3 separate regions of the Homo sapiens genome follow, and all the other regions are reported to be linked to region 1. The links are microRNA targets in miRTarBase. Many come from high-throughput screens and were not tested one by one. Region 1 holds a microRNA gene; each other region holds the end of a gene's coding sequence.
Evidence for each region. The annotated mature microRNA hsa-miR-3912-5p reads AUGUCCAUAUUAUGGGUUAGU and lies in region 1 at 3,060-3,080, opposite strand. An mRNA with a match to its seed (bases 2 to 7 or 8) in the 3' UTR can be bound and repressed. Matches are read on the target gene's strand: a 7mer-m8 pairs with bases 2 to 8, a 7mer-A1 pairs with bases 2 to 7 and ends in A, and an 8mer does both.

Region 2: miRTarBase lists BSN as a target of hsa-miR-3912-5p. Seed matches in the 3' UTR shown: 7mer-A1 at 3,744-3,750.
Region 3: miRTarBase lists SHC3 as a target of hsa-miR-3912-5p. Seed matches in the 3' UTR shown: 8mer at 4,386-4,393.

The regions. Positions count from the first base shown.
Region 1 is chr5:171,383,653-171,388,871 of GRCh38, forward strand. It overlaps MIR3912 (microRNA 3912), which reads right to left and starts at 3,108; the gene lies at 3,004-3,108. NPM1 (nucleophosmin 1) reads left to right here and starts at 4,197. Exons shown (of 11, transcript NM_002520.7): 1 at 4,197-4,354. The coding sequence starts at 4,297. RefSeq lists silencers at 4,478-4,537, 4,858-4,917.
Region 2 is chr3:49,663,962-49,669,180 of GRCh38, forward strand. It overlaps BSN (bassoon presynaptic cytomatrix protein), which reads left to right. Exons shown (of 12, transcript NM_003458.4): 9 at 462-593; 10 at 838-892; 11 at 1,268-1,357; 12 at 3,629-5,219. The coding sequence ends at 878. Among named protein-coding and RNA genes, the nearest start is that of APEH, 7.8 kb to the right of the region's middle. RefSeq lists a silencer at 2,635-2,929 and an enhancer at 2,635-2,929.
Region 3 is chr9:89,009,312-89,014,530 of GRCh38, reverse strand. It overlaps SHC3 (SHC adaptor protein 3), which reads left to right. Exons shown (of 12, transcript NM_016848.6): 12 at 956-5,219. The coding sequence ends at 1,084. Among named protein-coding and RNA genes, the nearest start is that of S1PR3, 20 kb to the right of the region's middle.

The DNA.
Region 1 (5,219 bases):
AGCTGGAGTGCAGTGGCTTGATCACGGTTTACCACAGCCTCGACCTCCCTGTCTCAAGTGATCCTCCCACCTCAGCTTCCTGAGTAGCAGGGACCATATGTGTGAGCCACCACACTCAACGAATTTTAAAATTTTTTGTAGAGATGGGGTCTCCCTGTTGCCCAGGGTGGTACAAATTATTTTTGGCCAGGCATGGTGGCTCACACCTGTAATCCCAGCACTTGGGGAGGCTGAGGTGGGTGGGTTGCTTGAGCTCAGGAGTTCAAGACCAGCCTGAGCAACATGGTGAAATCGTCTCTACCAAAAATACAAAAAATTAGCTGGGCATAGTGGCCTTTGCCTGCAGTCCCAGCTACTTAGTAGGCTGAGATGGGAGGATCACTTGAACCTGGGAGGCGGAAGTGAGCCGAGATCACCCCACTGCACTCCAGGCTGGGTGACAGAGTGAGACCCCATCTTAGAAAGAAAATTATTATTATTATTTTTTGAGACGGAGTTTTCACTTTTGTTGCCCAGGCTGGAGGGCAATGGTGCAATCTTGGCTCAATGCAACCTCCGCCTCCCAGGTTCAAGCAATTCTCCTGCCTCAGCCTCCCAAGTAGCTGGAATTACAGACATATGCCACCACACTCAGCTATTTTTTTTTTTTAATTTAGTAGAAACAGGGTTTCATCATGTTGGTCAGACTGTTTTCAAACTCCTGACCTCAGGTGATCCACCTGCCTTGGCCTCCCAAAATGCTGGGATTACAGGTGTGATCCACTGCACCTGGCCGAAAACGATTTTTTAGGGTAATCAAATAATTGATCAAGAAACATTCTCCTTTACAGAAGATTACAGACTGAGATTACAGGCATGCCACCACGCCTGGCTAATTTTGTATTTTTAGTAGAGACGGGATTTCTCCATGTTGGTCAGGTTGGTGTTGAACTCCCGACCTCAGGTGATGCGCCCTCCTCGGCTTCCCAAAGTGCTGGGATTACAGGCGTGAGTCACCACACCCGGCCAGGAACATGTTAAATGACAACATGACTCAAGGTAATGTGTAGACCTTGTTTTGATCCTTATTCAAGCAAATCAACTGTAAGAGACAGGGGTATTTGAACTGGGTAATTCATACTATTAGAAATAAATATATCTATTTTGAGATGGAGTCTCACTCTGTCACCCAGGCTGGAGTGCACTGGCTCAATCTCAGCTCACTGCAACCTCCATTTCCTGGGTTCAAGTGATTTTCCTGCCTCAGCTTTCCAAGTAGGGAGAGACAGCTTTAGTAAATATCTTTGTACCTATATAATTATTAATGTCTGAAAGTAGTTTTGTAGAGTATTCTAAGAAATGGATTTGCACAGTAAGTAGAGCAGGCACTTACAAATATATATACAGTACATATAAATGCTTCTTTTCTTTTTTCTTTTTTTTGGTTGGTTGGTTGGTTTTTTTAGAGACAGGCTCTCACTCTGTCACCCAGGCTAGAGAGTAGTGGTGTGAACATGACTCACAGCAGCCTTGACTTTCCAGGCTTAAGATCTTCCCACCTACCTCAGCCTCCTGAGTAGGTGGAACTACAGGCATGTGCTACCACACCCGGCTAATTTTTTCTGTTTGTTTGTAGAAACAGGGTCTCACTATGTTGCCCAGGCTGGTCTTCAACTCCAACCCCTCCTGCTTCAGCCTCCCAAAGTGCTGGGATTACAGGCATGAGCCATTGCACCTGGCATTCACTGTTTACGTAAGCAGGGTCGTATTATATATATATTGTTCTCCAACTTTGCTTTTTTACTTCATGTGGCATAGCTATCTTTCCAGGATATAATATATAGGGGACCACTGTATTCTTTTTAGAAGTTGCACAGTATTCCACAGGATAAACTGATATACCATTTTTTAAATACAAGTTTTATTTTAATCTTCATTTTTTAACACATTTTATCATGGAAATTTTCAAACAAGAACAAAAATAGAAGGAATCCTATGATGAACAACCATATACCCATCACCCAGTTTTAACAATTATCATCATGTAGTCAATCTTATTTCATATATACCTTCCCACTCTCCTTTCTCCTCCCCTTTTGCTGGATTGTTTTTTTTTAAAGTCTCAGATAAGGCCGGGCGCCATGGCTCACGCATGTAAGTCCAGCACTTTGAGAGGCTGAGGCGGGTGGATCACTTCAGGTCAGGAGTTCGAGTCCAGCCTGGCCAACATGGTGAAACCCCATCTCTACTAAAAATACAAAAATTAGCTAGGCGTGGTGGGGGGCGCCTGTAATCCCAGCTACTTGGGAGGCTGAGGCAGGACAATCACTTGAACCCAGGAGGCAAAGGTCACAGTGAGCCAAGATCATAACACTGCACTCCAGCCTGTATGACAGAGCGGGACTTCGGTTTCAAAAAAAAAAAAAATTAAAATAAAAAATAAAACAGTGGCCGGGTGTGGTGACTCACGCCTGTAATCCCAGCACTTTGGGAGGCCAACATGGCGAAACCCTGTTTCTACTAAATATACAACAATTAGCTGGACGCGGTGGCAGGCACCTGTAATCCCAGCTACTTGGGAGGCTGAGGCACGAGAATTGCTGGAACTCAAGAGGCAGAACTCGTGAGTCAGAGATCTTGCCACTGCACTGCAGCCTGGGCAAGAGAGCGAGACCCCGTTTAAAAAAAAAAAAAATGCTGGCTGGGTGCGGTGGCTCACGCCTGAAATCCCAGCACTTTGGAAGGCAGAGACAGGCGGATCACCCGAGGTCAGGAGTTTGAGCCCAGCCTGGAGAACACAGCGAAACCCCATCCCTCCTAAAATACAAAAATTAGTCGGGCGTGGTGGCATGCACCTGTAGTCCTCGCTACTCGGGAGCCCGGGAGGCGGAGGTTGCATCCAGCGGAGATCACGCCACTGCACTCCAGCCTGGACAACACAGCGAGACTCTGTCTCCACACACACACAAAAAAAGGCATAACAAATTTAAGTGACTCAAAGCTTTATGTGACACAGGAGCTCTCAGAAAGGAACAGTTAAATTATAACATGTCCATATTATGCGTTAGTATGTGTCCACAACTAACCCATAATATGGACATGTTATAATTTAACTGTTCATTCCTCTCTTGATAGACACTGAAATCGTCTCTATAATTTTCCTGTAAGAAATAATGCCTTGGGGTGGGGGTGTCTTCCTTTCTGAGGCTATCATTTGTATTCCTCACTTCTTAAATTTGTTTGATATGTTGAGGCTTAAAAAAAAAAGATTACGGGTCTTCAGAACGCCCCAATGCCCGCGGGGTGCTGGGGTGCCTCGGAGTTTGTCAAGGTGTAGCTTAAAACGTTAATTCCCATGCTCGCTCCCAAATATTCGAATTAAGGCTTCTGTAGTTCTTACAAGTCACCCGCTTTCTTTCAGGAGGAATGTTAAAGATTAAGAGCGGCAAGAAGTCAGAGTCGGCCCACCCTCCGAGCTCTCTTAGGGCGATGTCCTTGCTAATTTGGAGACTGATTCAGTCCCCTTTTGGCCCCCAAGTTACGTAAAGATAAGGACTTTGGAGATGTTTTCTCAGGAAGGACAGAGCTGAAAAACAAAGTTCCGTAAGTCTGGCCGGTAACTACATCTTTCCTTCCTAACAAAGAATAAGCCGCAATTCACTCTCTCTGGCACCTGAACTTTGGGGTAACGATTAACTGCGATCCGAAGCCTTCAGGCAAGTAAAAAATTCCTGAAGTGATTACGCCTGTTTGGAGGCTTGCAGGGCACTAGGGGATGGGGAAAGGTGAATCGAGGTGCTCTCTGGCTCATTCGCAGCCGGCTAACCCGCCATATCTTACACAGCTAAGGGCTGCCGACGCCATTTTGCAGGGTGGGCTGCGCAGACTCTTGGCGGGAGGCCGGCGCGCTTGAGCGGGAGAGGACGTGGAAGGGTTGGAGGTGGGGAGTGCGCGTTACGACTGGAAAGCACGCGTGCGCACAGGCGACAGCAGCGGAGGGGTGGGGCCAGTGTACGAGTGCGCGTGCTCGGTGGGAGCCCGCGGAGTACCTGGAAGGAGGTGGGGGCGAGGTAGAAAGGAGTGGGGTTGAAAAGCGCTTGCGCAGGACGGCTACGGTACGGGGGTGGGAGGGCTTCGGAGCACGCGCGCGGAGGCGGGACTTGGGAAGCGCTCGCGAGATCTTCAGGGTCTATATATAAGCGCGGGGAGCCTGCGTCCTTTCCCTGGTGTGATTCCGTCCTGCGCGGTTGTTCTCTGGAGCAGCGTTCTTTTATCTCCGTCCGCCTTCTCTCCTACCTAAGTGCGTGCCGCCACCCGATGGAAGATTCGATGGACATGGACATGAGCCCCCTGAGGCCCCAGAACTATCTTTTCGGTAACTGCTGGGGGGAGCTGGAGCGAGGCCGAGCGGGGCCTGGTGGCGGTGAGGGTGGGGGTGAGGGGCGGGAATCCGGCTGCAACCGGGTCTGGTGGAGACCGCCAGACCGACGGGAGGCCTGAGCGGGTGGGAAGAGCTGCCTGAGCCCTGGACCTGGAGGGATTGGAGCCGCGGGGGGAGCCGGTGGCGTGAAGGGGGAGGAGACGAGCGGCCTGAAGCGTCTGGGGCGTGAGCGGTCCGAGGCCCGGGGCCTGAGGTAAAGTGGAACCGGCCGCCTGGAAGTTCGGCCTTTGCCGGGGATACGTGGCGGAGCTCCAGGCGTGGTTTATTTTCTAACGGCGGTGGTTCATAGGCTTCTGATGCCAGGCCCCGGGTTGGTGGTCCTGGAGGCTGGGTTCACCGGGAAGCATGGGCCTGCTTGTTGGAGCGGGTAGATGCACAGCCTGGCGTTATTCTGGCCTCAGAGCCTGGAGCTGCCGGACGTAGACTTACCTCGCGTGCTTCGGCCAGTTACTGGGGGTGGGGAGGCGCGGCGCGGCGTGAGGAGGCCGCAACCGCTGGGAGCACGTGGTTGCCACGTGGTTGGGGGAGGGAGGGGGGTGTGGGCGCTACATCCGGGACTCACCGGCGTGTTGCCACTCGTGAGCCAGGGATGCTGTGGCTCTGTTGAAGTGGGAAATGTTAAGAGGCTGGTAGCACTAGGGTTCTGGAGGTCTTTGTTCAGTGCTTACAGCATGTACTGTGATGGCAGCTCTCATTTTTTTGAGCCCCTTTTCTGTCTCACTGCGGTAGGTGGAGCTAGCCCCACTTTGCAGATGAGGATACTGGTGCCCAGAGATAAACTCACTTAACGAAGGTTGTA
Region 2 (5,219 bases), not on the chromosome of region 1:
TGAGCTCCCCCACACTGCATGCCCTCACTAATCCCTGAGAAGGTGCCCCAGGGGCTGTAGACCTCCCCAGCAGAAAACAAGCCTGGGGTTAGAATAAGCCAATGAGGTCACCAGCACAGGGGCTTTAGGGCCCAAGCAGCTTTGGGCAGAGAAGCAGGAAGGCACTGGTGAGCACAGGGTGGGGACCATGGCTTCTTGCTCCCTCCTTCCTTCCCCTTTCCTGCTCTTCTCTGCCTTTTTTTCCCTTTCTTCTTCTTTCCCTTCCTCAACCTCCTTTTTTCTGCCTTCTCCCACCCCTTGTCTTCCTGTTCTTACCTTCTTCTCTTTATTTCCCTAGCCTCCTTCTCACCTTCCCACCTTATAGGGTACCTGTGTTCAGATTCTCTCGTGGGTACTTGCCCTCTTAGACCCTAAAGAGCCAGGCCGTGCATAGCTCATTATGGCGATTTCTTTCCTCCTAGGTGTGAAGGCTGGAGCCAGGCCTGGAGGAACCCCAGGGGCTCCCGCCGGCCAGCCAGGTGCCGATGGGGAGAGCGTGTTCTCCAAGATCCTCCCTGGCGGGGCAGCCGAGCAAGCTGGCAAACTGACGGAAGGTATGCACTGCCTGCAACTGGTCTGTGGTGGGTGGCTACTCTGGTACAGGCTGGGTCTGTGAGATGATTCCAGACTCAGTCACCCAGGCAGAGGCCAGCCAGAGAGCCCACCTGCTGATGCCCAGTTGTTCTCCGGGCAATCTCTGCCCCTTGGGCTGAGCTTGCCTTCACTATGCCAAGTGGCCCTGACTGGGAGGGGTCTGGCCCAATTTCCTGATGGCTCTCTCCTCTTTCTTTGTCACAGCTGTCTCTGCTTTTGGCAAAAAATTTTCCTCATTCTGGTGACCATGCCCAGCATGGTGAGTACAAGCAGCCTGTACCTTGCCTCTTCTGGGAAAGGCCCGAGGCACTGGGGGTGGGGGTGGGGCTCTAAGTCCGAAGGGGTCCTCTGGGAGGAGTCCAGTCTTCGGCTGGTTCAGTACCCAGAGCTGCAATGTTCCCTTCTCTGAATGTGGGAGGAGAAAAAGGAGGGACACTGTGCACAGAGCCCCTACCATGGGGCCAACACAGTAGGGGTCCCCAGCAAAGGAGGGGCCAAAGCCAGGGCCAGTGCCCTGGCTTTCAAACCATCTGCCATCCCCTGCAGGGCTCTCACAGCACTGGGCTGGCACTGGGTTGTAGGTAGGCCTCCAGGGATGCAACTCCTCTCCAGCCCTCCTCTAAATGCTCCACAGGCTCTTGAAGAAATGAAGAGAGGTATCATTGCTGTGGAAAAATCTCTGGAGTCAGAGGCCTGGGCGCAGCTCTGGACTCTGCGTATAACAGTGAGTGTCAGGATCAGGGTGAGATGGGCCGGAGGAGGGGTGAAGGGCCAAGGCCTGGCTGATGACAGCTAGCCAGTTCTGACAAGTGTGAACTGGGAAGGGCCTGTTGGGTTTCCTTCAGCTGCGATGGGCCCAGCAGCCCTCTACCCCGCAGAGGCAGGGGCCACAGAGCTGCCTGAGATGGTGCCAGACAAGTCAGGTGGCACCCTTGGAGAAGAGCCCAGCACGGCTAACTGCACCTCACAACTTGAAGTCTATGTGCTGGGCACTGAGTTCAAAGTCATCCTGAAGGACCTGGTAGTCTGTGGCACCTGTAGGGGAACATGCTTCTTCCCTGATGTCTGCTGCTGGTGCCTTTGCTCCAGCCACTTGGAAGAGATTAGAGTCCCCAAACCCCACAGAGTCACATCTGCAGCTCTGGGAATGAAGTCAAAACACTCCTGGCTTCACAGGCTGAGCTTGTGGCCCACAGGATAGAAGAGTGGAAGGAGTAGAGAGGCAGACAGGAAGGGACATAGAGGAAAGGGAGTCTCAGCCCCAGACTAAGTCAGCTCAGGGAGAGGGCAGAAGGGCCTCAGGATGGGAGCCCTCACCCTGTCTGGGCTGCAGTGGCCAAGGCAGGTTGGGACACCACTTCCTGGAGCCTGTCCTGGCCCTGGCCCTGGCCCTGGCCTTGGCCCTGCCTCTGTGGGAGGAGGAGGAAGTGCATCATCCTGGGTGGGAGGAGAATCACCTGGCTGTTGGTACAGCTCTGTGCACAGCCAGGACCACTGACCATCATCCCATAGCCCTCGGACCCTCCTCTTCTCCCTCCTTGCCCCTTCAGGGTGCTTCTCACGGTGCACAAGCATGTATGTGTTATCCATGGCGGGGCCTGGCGGTCAGTGAGCAGGTCACTTCAAGGGAGCCCTGGGGCTGGCAGATGCTGGGCCCGGGCCAGCACTGGTTGTGGGAGGGAAGGAGCTAGGTGTGATACCTCACAGGCTACCTTTCTCTGGAAAAGCAGTGGGGCCCTGGAAAGGCCCAGGCTTCCGTCCATTTATTCAACAAATGTTTGTCAAGCCCCAGGTATGTGCCAGGCACTCTTCCAGGATCTGGGGATATGGCAGAGAACAAAACCAAGTCCCTGCCCTCTGAAGCTGACAATCCATTAAAGGAGATAGAGAATAAATAAGTTTAAAAATAAAATTCAATTAAAAAGGTACTTTCTGAAAGTGATGAGTGTTATAAAGCCAGAGAAGCAGAGCTATGGAAGCAGTGGGGTCTGCTCTAGACAAAGTGCTCAGAGCAGAAGATATGTGAGGGAAGCTTGAGGGAGGAGGACGACTGCGGTGGGATGAAAAAAGGGGAGGGAACAGCACTGACGGATGATCGGATGCTGGGATGGGACCAGGGACAGGGCAAAGGCCAGTATAGCCAGGGCCACAGTGGAGGGGAGAGGTGGTCAGGGGTAAAGTCCAAGGGGGTGGGAGCCAGCTGGGGTGGGTTGTGCAGGCCAAGTAAGGAGCCTGGAATTTATTCTAATTACAGTAGCCATAGTGCAGCCCTTAGCGTTCTTCCTGCCTTCACCCTCCCACAGCGGGCTTCCTGCGGCTTCCCGCTCAGCTGATGTTTCCTTGGAGTTGCCCTGGAACAGATGTGAAATCACAAGTGGTGCTGAAAGTGGGGGAAGGAGGGACAGCCCATGGCCTGGATTCATGACAGTACCTACCTTGGGTTTGGGGCCAGGGTATGGCTCCTGAGCAGGGAAAGGAAGCACAGACACAGCTTTGTTCTGCGTCCTGCCACATGGTGTGGTTGGGCCACTGAGACCACTGACTTTATAGTTAAAGAAATCTCCCTTGAGTTCTAGCATTCGGCTAATGATTGGGTCAAGTGGACAGTGCTGCCGTGAGTATCCCTCTCCTGAAATTCTTTACGGCAATTTCAGAGATGGGCTTGGAGAGGTTTGCCATTTCAAACCAAATCCCTTCTCCATCACTCTTAAGCCAAAAAAAAAAAAAAAAAAGGAACTTTTGTTACATTAAAAGAAGTGTCCCTTCCTGGCTGACCTGATTCTTCTTTCTTGCTGTCCTCTCTGTGACCTCCAACCTGCCCAAGCACCCATCTCCCCAAGCCTGAGTGGCATGGCACCCCGTGGGTGAGGAGGTGGCCGCTAGCACAGGCAGATGGCTGAGAGGAATGTGAGGGTGAGAAGCAGCTATCTACAATTCTTGACAGAATCCTTTCTTTTCTTCTTTCCTTCCTCCCTCCCTCCTTTTCTCTTTCAAGCATCTACAATCTGGCAAACCCTTGGCCCAAAGACTCACCAGGTGGGACGTGGCAGGCAGGCCTCAGTTGAGGACGTGATGTTTTCTCACAGCAGCTGCCTGGGTGAAGCATCTGCTGGACAAGTCGGACCACTGGCCAGGGGACCTTTGATTGTCTTTCCAGAGATGCTGCTCTCTGCAGGGCACCACCTTCAAGGCACAGCCCTTGTTGGGAGGGAGAACCCTCTCCAGAAACCCTGCCACCATGGTGTCTTGCCGTACTTCCCACAGCCGCCTTTTTGCGGCCTGGCCGGCCAGGCTTCCCGTGCGTTATACACAGAGTTTGGGCACACACTGCCCTCCCTCCGAGATGCCAGAAGTTTTTCCACAGCCTTGGAGAGGGGCTTTGACTGAGGGCTGGGGGCCCTGGGCTCCGTTTCCTTCACATTCCAGCTGGCCCGGATCCCTCTGTGGCACAGGGCCCTGCCCGTCACATGCCCTCTGGGTGACATCGGAGCAGACCTCCATGTGGCCAGGGGTTGGGAGAACTTTACAAACATTAGGACCTAACACTGTCTCATCGCTGAAATAAGAGGCCATAGCACCGAAAAGCAGCGTGGGCGCCGGCTGAGGCTTCTCCCAGCCCGTGGGTGGCAGCGTGCTAGCACACTGCCACCATCTCAAAGCCATCCCCCTAGCCATCGTGAGCATCCCAGCGGCACCGCCATTGTCTCAACCAGCCGGCTCCTCGTCTGTACACCTGGGGATTTCTTTTGATTTCAAGAACAGCCTTAATCATTCCAGTTTGATTTACGTGTATACCTCATAAACATTTTTCTTTTGTTTCTCTCTCCCCCTTTCTCTCTTCTCTTGGCTCACTCCCTTGCCTCTCCCCCTCCACCACCACCTTGTGACTGATGGTTTGGTTTCCTCTCTGCTCTGCCCCTGCTCAGCACAGGGAGAATGTTGACTTAGAAGCAATAGGGGGCAGCAGGCCACCAAGAGCACAACCCCAGGGCGAGGTCTGGGGAGGCCTCCCAGCCCGCCTCTGTTTACTGTGCAATTCCAGTCGTTCTTAAGCCATCACCAGTGGGTGTACTCAGAGCAGAGGGGCCAGGACTTCTGCCAGCCAAGGGAAAGGCCCAGAGCCCTGTGCGGGGGAATGTGGCACTGTCTATCCATCCGGTGGACTGGGCAGCATTCCTCCCCAGGGCTCTTCCCTTGGGGGCCTCCTTTCATCTGGGGCACAGCCACAAGTCTCATCTCTAACGTTCTATGCAATGAAATATAAACCCTCAATGACAACTGTTAATATTTAATAAATTCCATGTTATGTATAAGGAGTTAATTGCAAACATGCAATTGAGAAACTGGATAGATACACTCATAAAACCCCCACCCCTCCCCACCCCACCCCTGCTCCCATTGTGTGTGTGAAATTCTCAGTCTGTGGCATGTTTGACCTGTGGCAGGACTCGCTGCTGCCAGGTGAGTCACCGCCTGTCCTGCAGTGGAGCATGCACAGCTCGCAGCCTCTTTGCACGATTTCATCCATTTTAAATGCTTGACCCTCTTGCTTGGAGTTCTTTTTGCCTCAGAACCTCTCCTTCAGG
Region 3 (5,219 bases), not on the chromosome of region 1:
GGAATTCAGCTGACCCTCGAGCATAGCCGCGAGGGTGGCCTGTGAGGGTGAATGGACCTAGCCAGGTGGCTGCTTTCTGCCCCCATCTCCCACTTATCAAACATGCAACTCCCAGGAGATTGTGTCCAGACCTCCTCGAAAAATTGCTCCTGACAGGCCCCACTCCACCTTTTTCAAGTGTGAGTGATATCTGTGAATGTGCCGGCTCAGAGTGGAGGCGGCTGATGGACCCCAGGGACCACAGTGCAGGCCAGCAAGCAGGGCAGAGTGTTCAACCTCCTCTCCCCTGACATGGCATTAAAAGTTTATGGGCAGGCTGTAGAATTGAAAGCCCAGGAACACGGAGCCTGTACCTCTGACCCAGCCTGGCTCACTCTCCAGTGGGGGACTGCAGGGGCAACAGGAGCTCCTCTGGGGAACTGTGAGGCTTGCCCCTGGTGGGTGCCCAGGATGTCTGGAGAGGAAGGAAGGCTGCCTGGAGGTGCTGGCATTGAGGTAGGGCCAGGCTCAGGTGGAAGACACTAATTCTGGGCCGGGAGATGTCCATGCAAAGGCCTAGAGGTGGGAGGGTCATGGGAGCCTGCAGAGCCCAGTTCAGGGCTATCCTGAGAGGGCCAGGGAGGGAGCAGGAGAGACAGGTGAGGTGACCTTGGTTGGTGAAGGTGGAGGAGGCCATGCCTATAGGACAGTGGGCTGGGACATTCCAGAACTGAGTCCTAGGGGCCTGGGCTTATGGTTACTGAAAGGTCTTCAGGTAGTTTGGAGGTGAGCCCAACCAATGAAATGGATTGGCCATTGCTCTTTGCAGACAGCATCTCTAAAGTGGTGGAAGCCCCTTGTCCCCCCCTCCTTTCCTTCTGGGCCAGTTCAGATGGTCTGGCTGATTCTGAGCAAACCATTTTCTCTTTTTGCTGCCTGTGAGATGTGCTTAACCTTTCCTTTGCTTCATTCATAGATCCGGACAAAGGACAGAGTCTTTGACAGTATCAGCCACCTCATCAACCACCACCTAGAAAGCAGCCTGCCCATTGTCTCTGCAGGGAGTGAGCTGTGTCTCCAGCAGCCAGTGGAGAGGAAGCAGTGACCTGGCCAGCACTGCTCCCAGCACTGCGCACCAGGTCAGGAGGACCTGGAGTGGACTAGAATCGGGGCTGCTGGAACTGGGACAGCTGCCTGTGGCTCAGAGCCTTCTTCAAAAGCTTCAAAAGGAAGGCTTCCTTTAAGGTCAAGTTTCATAAACTTGGTTCTGAATTTCTCATATGCATATTAAAGGTGTACATACCTATACATCCTGTACAAATTATCCCTCTATATTTATATTTTTTAAGACTAAGAAAGATGTAAGACTAATGTTCTGTGCTGTATGTTTTTAATGAAAAAAAAAAATAAGTTTAACTGTAGTTGTCCAGGCAAAAATTTAATTCAACTGACCCATCCCACCGGGAAATGCCACTAGGAAGGTGTAGCCTGCAGTTTTACCTAATAAGCACAACTGGAGGGGAATAGAAACACAGAATTGTGAGGGAATCGCAAGGCATGCTGCTCAGAGCATGCCTAGCCCTGCACTGAAAGCTATGAGATACTGGTTCTGAGGCATGGCTGTGCTTGCTGGTGGGAGCGGGCATCCTCCCTTGGCCTCCCTGGGACACCTCCTGTGCTCCCTGCACTGCACTCCACGTGCCTGGGGTGTCTACACAACTCGCTGCAGCTTCACTAAAGAACAGGTGGCACTCCAGCTTCTCCGGGTCCTGCTGAGCACAGGGCCCCGCCACCCTTGACCCCAGTTGTGCGAGGAGTACTTGGGAATTCATTTCATGCCAAAATGGCACAAAATAAGCTTCACCAACCAAGATTTTGATTGACAAGTGCTTCCCTGTTCTCATGTATCTAATGCTAAAATGGGTATTTGTAGAAGGGTGGTCGGGGCAAATTCCTGGTTTGTGTCTCCCTCTAGTCAGCGGTTGACTACAGGCTGCTTATGGTAATTGCTAGTAAAGTCCCCCGCCCGCCTTATACAATAGGGGAGAAGCCTGTGTGACAGCAAGAGCAGGCACCCATCCCAGAGCTCAGTCCCGAAGACTCAGGTATTGAGGCTTCTGGGGCTGCATGTGCCAGAAACCCAGGAGTCACTGGAATCCATTTGAGGTACTGCCTCTGGCATGAGGGATGGGGGAAAGGCCTGCTGTCCCAACAACAAGGTTTCTCCGTTGCTGCAGGGAAGAGCATGTGCCTGCCCCCACTCTTTGTCTTGACTCCCTTTCTTCCAGGTAAAATACTGTCATTTCCTGAGGAGTCATTTGGTGTTAGAAAGCTGGCAATGTTTATACCTTTCAAATACTATCTGGGCTGAGATTGCCCTGTGATTTTCACAGATGCCCTTTAAAGAATAGATGGATCCATTTGCTTGCTGGCAGCGTGGCTCTTGTTCTGGTGAGACCCCACAGGGTACAGCACCCTGTAGGGTATGGGTCAGCAGAACAGAAAGACACACTAAACACGCTTAGAGTTGGATAGTGATAAATCTGATCCTGTAAGGAGAGTTATGAGGAGACTGAAAAATCTGGCAGATAATAATACTGCTAAGTTCTAATGCCAATGGTATGAGCCCCATTTCTGCCTTGGGGTGTGCGTGTGGCCAGATGGAAGGACAGGTTAGAGCTAACCAGTGAGGATGAGTCAGGGCAGGCCCCAGCCTTCATACATGGCCTTCTAGGGAGTCTTTGCCTTTGAGGGTCCAGTGAATTTGAGATGACAGTGAAGTCAGTGTTCTAGAATGTTCTGCAGTGGATTGAAACTCTGGAGAGTCTGACACTACTGTAGACTGCACTGCTGTTTTCTGAAATGGTTTTGGCTTCAGGCATCATGTGGATACTCTGCTTAGTGATCCAGAAGCAGACGGCTCCACGGGGTTGCTGGCAGCAGCTGCATCAGGCTCCTGCCCCAAGACAGCATAGACTTGGGTGCTCTGAGAGCTGCCCTGCACATCTGTCCTCTGGGAGGCTGGGAGCCCTGGAGAGACACACACAGCTCTGACCCACCTGTGCATGAATGTGCACCACATAGAAAAATGTGCGAAATGACCTTCTTTCTACATTCATGCATTCCCCACTTGTGAAAGGTCAAAATGCTATTATAACATTCAGGGACAATAGCAAAGTAGGAAATGCAAGTTAGGAGCTGTGAATGCTGTAACATTTGATTTACTTTATTTTTCTCTTGGGGGGACTTGAATGGTAACCTGCAGCTTTAGTAGCTCTTGCTGTGAAGTCAGTGTCTAGTTCGATGGTGATAGAAAATATATATATTTTTTGCATGAGAATCAATTTAGAAAATTTAAAGTATTGGAGTCGAATTTTTTCTTTTTAATATTAATTCAAAATATACATTTTTAAGCTCAGATTATATATTGGTTACACTAGAATAGTGCCAGTGAAGTGAGCAGGCTTCAGACATAGCAGATGGCAGCGATTTTCTAATCTTTGTTCCCTCCCATTTGTAAAGTGGGTTAGAGCACACATTAGTTATCCCAACTCTTCCCTCCAGCACTGTGTGGTGGGCCATTCCTGTGAGCCTCACAGACACATGGGGAAAGTGAGGCTGGGGCTGGTGCCACACCTTCCTGGAGGCCATGTTGTCATCTGGCTGCAGAGCTCTTCTGCTCACTCAGCATTTCGTGAGCCCTGCTGTGTGCCAGCCTGTGCTTTGAGCTCAGGATTCCAAGGCAAAAGCAATGGAGGCTCCTCCCTGTCTAGCCTGGGCCCCTCTTCCCCACACTTTCTCAGGCCACATCTCTGCCTGGGCAGGGCAGGGAAGCTGAACAATGAACGCAGCGGGAATGGCATTAGGCCTTGCGTTCCAGGGCCTCAGGCTTCCAGGGCACAGTCGCTGCTGCTGTGCTGGGCCACCCTGGTCCTGCAGAGTGCACCTGGGCCCTGCTGTCCCTCCAATGGGCACCCCCAACACTTAACCCCAAACTCTATGTCTTCTGGGAGTACAAGGTGGGGGCCAGCAGTCCTAAAACGGCCCCTCTGCCCTTACCGAGTGGCCCTAGAGACCCCCACCCACCTCCCCTAACCCCACGAATGAATCAGCTGTGCTTCAAATGACATCTCTGTCCCACGGAGGCCGGCTGGGCCTCTCATGGGGGTGCTCATTGTGGTTTAAGTCAGCTTTGATTCTTGACCTCCAAGGCTGCCTCTGAGTAGCTAACCGGAGAATCGGGTGGGGAGGTGAAAAACACCGCAGTCAAATGACTCAATCTTTAATCCTGTGCTTAAGACACCACTGTTGCTGTTTTTTATATTTGAAGCACCCAAAGACTGGGCGTCCGCTCAGCCTTGATGAGCGAGCAGCTATTTTGTCAGGCCATCTATGATGTTGGGATAATGGACAAAGGCCTGATTGGGCCATATATGGCCTTCTTTAGGGCCTCCTGGAGGTGGAGGAAGTTGTGGGTAATTTCTAATAAAGACGGGAAATGACAAGCCGTGTGTGTAGGTAAAGTCCTAACTTAAAAGGAAGGACAGGCCTAGGGAAGGGTGGACCCTAAAGGGCCCATGTGCCAGGGGAACAGTGGACATGTGTGTCCAGCCCAACCTCCATGTCTGGTGCTGGGATTCTGAAGGTGGCCCCCAGCTCCCAAAATAAAGCTTTCCTTTTCAGTAGCGTCCGACACTTGGGTAGCTTCTTTCTATAAGCAATGCTTGAAGATGGACGTCTGGGTCCTCATTTCCTCCAAACTGGCTGCTACCTGAAGGCAGTCACACATTTCTTTTCTGTTGGGCTGAGCTGGGCAGAAGCCTCGGACTATAGGCCTTTCCAGGGCAGAGGCAATGCGGGCCACGAGTAGATACCTCCATCCAGCCTCCACCCTGGCACACCCAGAACGGCGTGGACTCAGGCGGGTTGCTGGATTTCTCTGAGCCTTGGCGTGCTCTACACTGCAGGGCTATACATGTTCCCAGCTTGAGGGCGTGCTGGGGATTGACAAATATATGAAACATATAAGCGCAATGATTTTCTAAAATTGTGCATTCCCAGCGTGCCCATTGGTTCTCTCTCGCTGGCCCAACTTTGTGTGCTGTCCATAAATCCCTTTCTGTGGACGGTGACAGTAGGATTGGGAGTGAGTGGGAAGATTGTGGAAAGATTGCAAAGAGGTCATTGCAGGACTCAGACAGACCTTGCAGTGGGTTTCAGAGTAATACTCAGGTTCTCCC